2 separate regions of the Homo sapiens genome follow, and region 1 is linked to region 2. Evidence: fine-mapped expression QTL. A gene starts in region 2. The other region holds a variant in brackets. All regions are shown on one strand. Distances are from middle to middle.

Region 1 (4,000 bases), 100 kb after region 2:
AGATGATAGAATTGGGAACATTTAACCGGGTCTCATCTTCTGAAGAGTTCTCAGGGCTGAGGGTAAACACCGTGGAAGGACTTGACGTGTATTCTAGGGACAAGGGAAGCATTCAGAATGGAGCTTTGGGGATCTGAGTGATTACAGGACAGGGAAGAAGAAAAACCACCAAGCTGGGCATGCAATGATTGTATCGGGGCTAAACAGAGTTCCTTTGCTGCGCCTCCCTCTGCTGATACCACACTGATACCAGCAGAGTGACCTCTCATGAGGACTCCTCTTTAATTGTGAGCAGGAGTGACTCAGTAGGTAGTAGCCTTCAGAACCTCAGAGACCATGGGAGATGGCAGGTGAAACCGATGACTCCTTGATCTGAGCAGAAGGAAAATTCAAGGAAAGCCGCTGCCAACATGTGCTTCTGTCTCAGCAGCGGCTAACAGTCACCATCATTCCAGCTGTGTATGTGCTGTTTCAGGAAGCCTAATAAATCTGGTGATTTAATTACACGAAATTACTTAATCAGAGAAATTTTATGCTACAAATTATTACTTTAATAAACCAGAGAGAATAAAGAAAAATTTCTTGAATATCTTTGCCAAATCAGTCTAGGCATCCATTTTCAATTTAATAACTAATAGCAGAGGAGATTGAAATAGATGTTATTACAGATTTTTACAAGGCAAAATATATTTAAGCCGGATCAGAAGGTTAATTAAAATTATAGTTGGGTCTTGTCATTACCAAGCTACTCTTTTTCTTTGGTACAGTTGCTCCGAGTTTAGCGTCTGTTTGATAAAAATGCTTAAAATGGAATCCTCATTTAAAAGAGAATTATACTCCGTATTATTTCTGAGCCTGATCTCATGTACCTACGTCGGAAATAAATGCATAATTAACCCTTTTTCATGATAAATTAACATTCATTTTCCTAGGATTAGTCGGAAATAGCATAATCCAGGGCAGGTTTTGCTTTCATTCTAACAGTCCCCTGGGACCTCTAACACTCTTAAAGGATTAGTAAAGCCTGTGATTCATTGTGTGTCTATGTACATGAAAATAGGATGCAGTTCCTGACTGTCAGGGAGAGAGGTTTTCCTAATTGACAGCTTTTATAAGTAAACGTAGAAAGATTAGCCTGCAAATACTGTGAGGGTGACTTTGGAGACCTGGCTGGGATGTGTTAGCAAAAGGATGATGTGTCCTGTGAATATTGAAAATTCCAAATGCATTCTACCAGGATTTTTAGACAGGAGGTTACAGCAGCTGTTGAAGTCAAGGCCCCTGGAGAACAGATAAGCTTTTAGGGGAAGTTCTTTGTCTGGTCTAAACTCTTGGGGTTTTCTTGCTTATCTGAGCCCACTTTTATGAACCAATAGGTTTACATTTACATAAACAGTGTGGGTTATTTTATTTGATTTATTAAGACCGGGTTGAAAAAAGCGGAGGCTTATTGGAGAATTGAATCTGAGCTTCCCTGAGTTTTTAATTCAAAATTCCCAAAGCCTTAATGAATGTGAATAAATTTCCATGAAAAGTCATGGGGTAGGGAGCCTGTATTTTAAATGCTTAGAGGGGAAAATGGAGTCCAAAGAGACTTCTGCTCCATTACTTAGTAACAAATAGGGTACAGGTTTCCTTTGGTTTGGTCCAAAACACAGAAATTTAGAAGAGCAAATTGAAACACCATCTGTTGACTAGGTATGATACCTGGTCATATTACAGGCATTTTACATGAATTATCTCAATAGAGAACTTGAAAGTAAAGAGAAGACATTTGTGAGTAGTGTAACCCAGAGAGAGAATGGAGTTCATTGCCCCACTTCCTTTTCAATGACACACACCTAGTAGATGCTTAAAACATGTTAAGAATTCTCCTTGGATTTGTCCTTTTAGTGGAATTCCTATCAAGACAGGCTCAGCATCACATAGCAGATAACC[A/G]TGGTGGTGAGTCTCTTCCTGTCCTATACTTCCATGTTGCTCATGGAGGCCTTTGATTAGCAATTGAGACAGGAGAGTTCCCTTTACCCTCTGGTGGGACTTGCAGCAGGGGTGGCTCCTTTGCTCAGCTGCTTCCACGTGCTCAAACCCCTTATGGTGGGTGGTGCATGCATGTGAGTGGGTGCAGGAGCTGGGGCGAGTGCCTTTGGGCACTGGCAGGAACAAACCCCCATACCAGCCCACAGCAATGTCTAGGGGTTGCCAGCAACCTCTGGAGCCCCAGAGGGTGTGTGTTACAATCAGTGCTCTTTTAGTATGTGCTGTCTGTGGATGGCTAAGTGTTACACAGCTCAGTGGAGGGTCACTGTGACAGCTTCTTGCACCCGCACCTGGGTCCTTGTCTAGTGCCCAAGAGGAATGAGGTCACATGGACTTGAAGGATGGTGAATGTGGAGATTTTATTGAGTGGTGGAAGTGGCTTTCAGTGGGATGTGGAGCTGGAAAGGGGATGGAGTGGGAAGATAATCTTCCCTGGAGTTCAGCTGGGGACTGAACTCTTCTCCAACTGACCTTGGCCAAATTCTGTGACCGTAGTCTCTGACATCCAGCTGCCTCTTCTCCTCTTGATGTTTGGACACTTCTTCTCTTCTCTCCTTTTCTGCCACAGCGCTCTGCTCCTCTGCCAGTGGAGCTTTGGATTTTTATGAGCACAGGATATGGGCCATGGTAGGCCAAAAGGCAACATTCGGGCGGGAAAACAGGGATGTGAAGTTTTCGTTTAGGTCCGCAGGTCCAGCTTGAGGGTGGAGCCCTCGCCAGGGACCCCACCATCTTCTACCTAGTATTTCCCTGCCTCCTGTCCATATCAAAATGATTAGGATCAGCTTTTGGGGAAGGTACTTTTTAGTTTATGTTTTAACATTTAAGATCTAGCATAGCCTTTGGAAGGCAAAAAGTGAACTCTAGTCATCAAGTCAGGGGATCTTGATGTTCTCAGGGGCACTGGATGAGTTTGTCAGATTCTTGTCCCATAAAGACAGTGGTCCCTCTTGACAAGTGACCCTGGAGTTAGTCCTGTGTCCTGGAGTTGGAGGCAGCATTCAGGGGTGATGAGGGAAATCAGTGGGAGGTGACAGAGGGGATGGGGCCCAGCCCACTGCCCTTGCTGCAGAGAAACTTCCCAGGGGCAAGGTATACTTAATTAACTGCCCTGTCTGGAACCCATGTCTAAATATCACTAAGGGTTTTGTTTTCAAAGAGAAGCTATTAAAGTTATCTGAAGTACTGAGAAATTGTTTACATAGCAGAGTTCATTGTGGGTTTTATATTTGAAAGAAAATCTGATACGAGTATAATCTGCATGCTGGATGTGGATGGCTTCAAGAAACAGTTGGATCAAATAAAACTAATGATGAATAAAACAACCATAGCAGCAGACAATATATATGAGATATTCAGCAGAGCCCATGGCCTCTGCTGGACAGACGGTGGGAAGGGGAAGCTCTGTGGGGGCCCTAAAAGAATTTCTTGTTAACCCCCCGAGGTTGGCCCTTCCTCTCCACTGGCCATGATCCACCTGAAGGGAACTTGAGCATTTAATTCAACAGACCAGCATGATACTTCCTCCTGTGGCCTGATGAGCAAGTGGAGTGAGCCCAGGCCTGCAGAGTGACACAACAGTAGGTAGACAGTTGCAGAAGGAAATAGCTGACCCAGAAGGACTCTGGGCCAGGGCCACCCAGCATGGGAACTGGTTTACACATGCTATGGAAACTCTGTTTTGATCACATGGGAAACTTCAGGAGCTGATTTTTCCCTGCCTTGCTCAATCCTCTTTTGAACCCTATCTTAATGATAACATGGTAGCGGGAGAGGGCAGCTCTTTCAGAAGGCAAACCCCAGGAAGGCAGACATTTCTGCTTTGTCTGTGTTATTCACTGCCCTATTCCAAGAACCTAGAGCAGTGCCTTGTACTTAGCAGGTCCTCAATAAATGATTGTTGAATGACAATCACACTTGCCTGTCTGACCTAAAAAAAAAAAAAAAAATTCCCTGGTTTTTG
Region 2 (4,438 bases):
TAGTTCACCCTTCCCCCACCCTGTTAAAATTTGATTCAAAAGAATTCCGTGGAATATATAGGGTAACATGAAGTCATTTCTAAACAAAGAACATTTACAAAAGATGTGGATGATGTCTTAAACCTCATTGTAATCCAACTATCCCAAGTAATCAGCACCGGTAAGCACTAGTCCCTCTATTGAAAATTGAAATTCCAATTACTGATTTTCCAAAAGAAGACATTCTCCTCCACTTACGAAATGGAACAATGAAAGAGGATTTTCTGTTTGGGGTGACCGGGGAGAAACGGAGTCTTCACACAAAGTCTTAGTTCATATTCAGCCCTCCTTTCCTTGAAACCACATCCCCAGGATTTATCTGGCTTGTTTGTGAAAATATGGGAAAACATTTTAAGTCGAAGAAACTGATCAGATGACTTAATTACATTTCTGCTTAGTTCAGCCTGTAACTTAGACTGTTAGAGAGAGAGAACTTAAGTAGCCCTTGGTTTGAACCATCTGTCGCGAAAATGTGACATATGTTTGCTTTGTTTACTCAACAACCAAGTGTAAACTGATACACTGAACTAGAGTATCCCTGAATGATGTGGCTATGGGTGTGTGTGTGTTGGAGGAGGGGTGTCTGATGAGGGCGTCCGTCTCCTCATACTTACCCTGGAGGAACACGCGTACAGCACAAGAGAAGTGCGGATCCGTAGGATGTCCCCCGGGTTTGGGGCGCGCCCCGAGGCGCAGACCCTCTTTGGCGACTCCACACAATATGCAGCCCGCCTGCAAGCAGCCGCTGCAGCCGAGGGGCGCGCCTGGCTGATGTGTGGTTGAATGGAGAGCGGCCCAACCCTCCTCCTTCCTCCTCTTCTTCTCCCCGCCCTGACACCCGGGCCTCAAACTTCAACCAAAGCCCGTGCCCTTTTCAATTTACCCCCCTCGATCAAAATGAGCCATTCTTGTCTGTCCTCCGCGGCGGCCCATTGTCTGGCGTGATAGGTTTGCAGATTTGACAGCTGGGCGCACGCAGATTTGATTCAAACTCGGTCTCCCCGAGAGATGAACTTGGACATCAGCAAAGATCCCGAGCACTGCCGGCTGGCTCCTAGACCGGTCTCCCGACCCAGTGTAGACTTCGGTGCCCCGGGCGCCCCCCGGCGTGCGGGAAGGGGAGCGTGTGTCAGGCGTGGGGGGCGGGGGGTGAGCAGCACGACTGGGAACCAGCGGTCCCAGGGGTTGGGGCGAAGGGCTGTGTACATGTTAGGCTTTTTTTGTTGTTGTTAATTTACTCTCGAAACAGCCAAAATGGAGGTCAGCTTATAAATTTTCTAAAGCCAGGTCTGGCCGGGTTTAAATGCAGTGGGCTGGGGGCTCCGCTTTTGTCTCCTTGTCGGAGCTCCAGGAGAGAGGTAGAGACTGCGTGTGCATGTGTGCGTGTGAGTGTGAGTGTGCACGCGCTGGCGTGGACGAACGGATGGGCGCATCCCAGGATCGCCGCTCCAGCGTCCTGGGTCTGAGTGTGTCTTGAAAGCACCAAGTCTTGAATCACAGCCACTAGTGACGTGGGGGAAAACTTTGTGTTCCGAAGAAGGGTCTGGCTCGATTGCCCTAAGAAGAAAGAGCCCTTGTGCCCGTGTATGTGTGTGTGTGTGTCTGTGTGTGTGTGTGAGAGAGAGAGAGAGAGAGAGAGACAGAGAGAGAGAGAGAGAGAGAGAGTGTGTGTGTCTGGCAGCACCCGCGGCCGGCTGCAGAACACTGCGTGTCCTGTGCGCGAGTACGGGTCCGGCCGCGGGTCCCACCGCAAGCGGGCGTGTGCAGCTGCGGCTGCCTGGCGGGCGAGCTTAGGAGGGAGCTGGAGCTGCGGAGCGGCGGGAACAGGAGCAGGCCGAGGGTCCTCTGGCCAGAAGAAATCTGGCCTCGGAACACGCCATTCTCCGCGCCGCTTCCAATAACCACTAACATCCCTAACGAGCATCCGAGCCGAGGGCTCTGCTCGGAAATCGTCCTGGCCCAACTCGGCCCTTCGAGCTCTCGAAGATTACCGCATCTATTTTTTTTTCTTTTTTTTCTTTTCCTAGCGCAGATAAAGTGAGCCCGGAAAGGGAAGGAGGGGGCGGGGACACCATTGCCCTGAAAGAATAAATAAGTAAATAAACAAACTGGCTCCTCGCCGCAGCTGGACGCGGTCGGTTGAGTCCAGGTTGGTGGCATTTGGAGTTTTTTTCGTTCTGTTTGGGAACCCATTGCCGCTTCCCGTCCCTCTTCCCCACTCCTTCTTCCCCCCTCCTCCGGCCACCCCTTTCTTTTTGCTGGCGTCTCCCAACTTTAGGGCCCGGGGGGCGCTCGTGGCGCCGGGCTGCACCTGCCGGGGCACGCCGGGACTGCGGGCCGGCGCGCTCGCCCTGGGCTGGGGTGCGGAAGCGCCCGAGTCCTGGGCACCGGGCGAGAGTGTGAGAGGAGCGGACGCCCAGGAGGGAGCCGAGGACGCGCGGCGGGTAGGGGGTAGGGGCGCAGGAACCGGGTTTCAGCCCCAGTCGGGACATCGGTTCCCCCTGGCTTGGCGGCCTCTGGAGGGAGACGAGTCCCGGGGAGAAGGAGGGCGGCGACTGGGGCTAGGGATTGGCGATCGGAGTGGGGAGGGCCGGCGGCTGAGCGAGCTCGCTGGCTGACGCGAGGAGGGGGAGGCCAACTTCCCGGGAGAAGGGGCTCTTTCGGCGCCAGGGCTGGCTAGGGAGCTGCCGCCGCCGCCACCGAGGGCTCGGACTCCAGGCAGCTGCAGGCTCCGCTCGCGACGCTCGGAAAGTACCGTTTATTTATTTATTTGCTTGCGTTCAGCGTCTCGGGTTGAACCCAACAGACACCCCCTTGGACTTTAGGAACCCTCTTCAGACCTCTCCAGCCCTCACCTCCATCCCCGTGTCAGCGGCCCCTGGAAAACACGCACATGCACCCCGACCTGGGTGGGGGTGGGTCCTCACCCCGGTGTTGGAAATTCCCCAAAGGCGGGAACGGGGGAGGGGAGAGGGTTCTGTGGGGGGAGTCTCCGGCGCTCTCCGCTCTCATCTCAAAGCGCGCCCTCCCTTCCAGGTTGGGTCGGACCTGAACCCCTAAAAGCGGAACCGCCTCCCGCCCTCGCCATCCCGGAGCTGAGTCGCCGGCGGCGGTGGCTGCTGCCAGACCCGGAGTTTCCTCTTTCACTGGATGGAGCTGAACTTTGGGCGGCCAGAGCAGCACAGCTGTCCGGGGATCGCTGCACGCTGAGCTCCCTCGGCAAGACCCAGCGGCGGCTCGGGATTTTTTTGGGGGGGCGGGGACCAGCCCCGCGCCGGCACCATGTTCCTGGCGACCCTGTACTTCGCGCTGCCGCTCTTGGGTAAGTCGAGGCCCGCCGCGGGCTTTCTTACCCTCTGAGTCTTTCCTAGGGTCGCTTGCAGCAGCCCACCCCGCCCTCCGCACCAAAATTGGGGCGCGGGTGTGGTGGATGTGGAAGGAAGAAGTGTCTTTTTGGGGAATGGGATCGCGAATCCCCGGGTTAGGGAGGCGGTGGCGGCGCGGCGCTGCCTGAAGCTTTTCGGGCTTGGTTTTGATTTCCTGTGGTTTTTAATGACCCAACTTGGCGGGGGACTAAGAAGCCCTCCAGCCCAGGGCCCTGCACCCCCAGAGAGTCTCTGGGAGCTCGCGGAGCCGCGGCGGGCAGGTGGAGTTGGGGAGCATTGGGGCCGGGAGAGCAAACTTGGAAGAGAAAAGTTTTTCCCGAGTAGCTTCTGGGCACTCTCCGCCCGGCGGACCGCTGACCATGGCTGGCCTGCCCCGCGCCCAGCGCGCGCCCGGTGCCCAGTCCGCCGCCGCACTTCTCCTCGGAAAGCGCCTGAGTTTCAGCCGGGCGGAGCGGGTGGCTGGAGCCGGGGGTGGCCCGGGAGCCCGGGTCGTTGCTCAGGCCAGGATGCCCCGGGGCGGAGGGCCGACGTGCGCGGTGGGCAGCGCAGGCTCTGGAGCAAACCCTTGAAGCCCGCGGGCTGAGCCTGCGCCACTCTTCCTTGCGGGCCCGGGAGGAGGAGAGAGGAGCTGGAATTCCAGGGGGCGGGAAAATGGACTCCCGGATGGTCGAGAGGTGGACCCGCTCCCAGAGCAGGGCGCCCCCGAAGGCTGGTCAAGCATCCCTGACCCGGGCGCGCGCCCTCGCCCGGAGCAGGGGCGGCCGGGGTCCCCGCCCGCCGCACTCAGGCTCCCTCCCCTCTGCCCCGCAGACTTGCTCCTGTCGGCCGAAGTGAGCGGCGGAGACCGCCTGGATTGCGTGAAAGCCAGTGATCAGTGCCTGAAGGAGCAGAGCTGCAGCACCAAGTACCGCACGCTAAGGCAGTGCGTGGCGGGCAAGGAGACCAACTTCAGCCTGGCATCCGGCCTGGAGGCCAAGGATGAGTGCCGCAGCGCCATGGAGGCCCTGAAGCAG

Which allele goes with the higher level. Alleles are on the strand shown, and positions count from the first base shown. SD is a standard deviation of normalised expression in the study named.
As copies of G replace A in region 1, the expression in nucleus accumbens of the gene that starts at base 2,145 in region 2 goes up (moderate effect, 0.55 SD a copy in GTEx).

The links. PIP is the estimated chance that this variant, and not a neighbour inherited with it, causes the effect.
Region 1: its variant is the best candidate, but not a certain one, in a credible set for the expression of GFRA1 in nucleus accumbens (GTEx, PIP 0.90).

Annotation. Positions count from the first base shown.
Region 1 is chr10:116,168,131-116,172,130 of GRCh38, reverse strand. The region is part of intron 5 of GFRA1 (GDNF family receptor alpha 1); the gene reads left to right. Among named protein-coding and RNA genes, the nearest start is that of SNORD158, 25 kb to the left of the region's middle. The variant A/G (reference allele first, on the strand shown) is at 1,939.
Region 2 is chr10:116,270,913-116,275,350 of GRCh38, reverse strand. GFRA1 (GDNF family receptor alpha 1) reads left to right here and starts at 2,145. Exons shown (of 11, transcript NM_005264.8): 1 at 2,145-2,188; 2 at 3,076-3,361; 3 at 4,236-4,438. The coding sequence starts at 3,322. LOC107984273 (a long non-coding RNA gene) reads right to left here and starts at 1,342. Exons shown (of 2, transcript XR_001747598.2): 1 at 1-1,342. RefSeq lists a silencer at 1,640-1,934 and an enhancer at 1,143-1,980.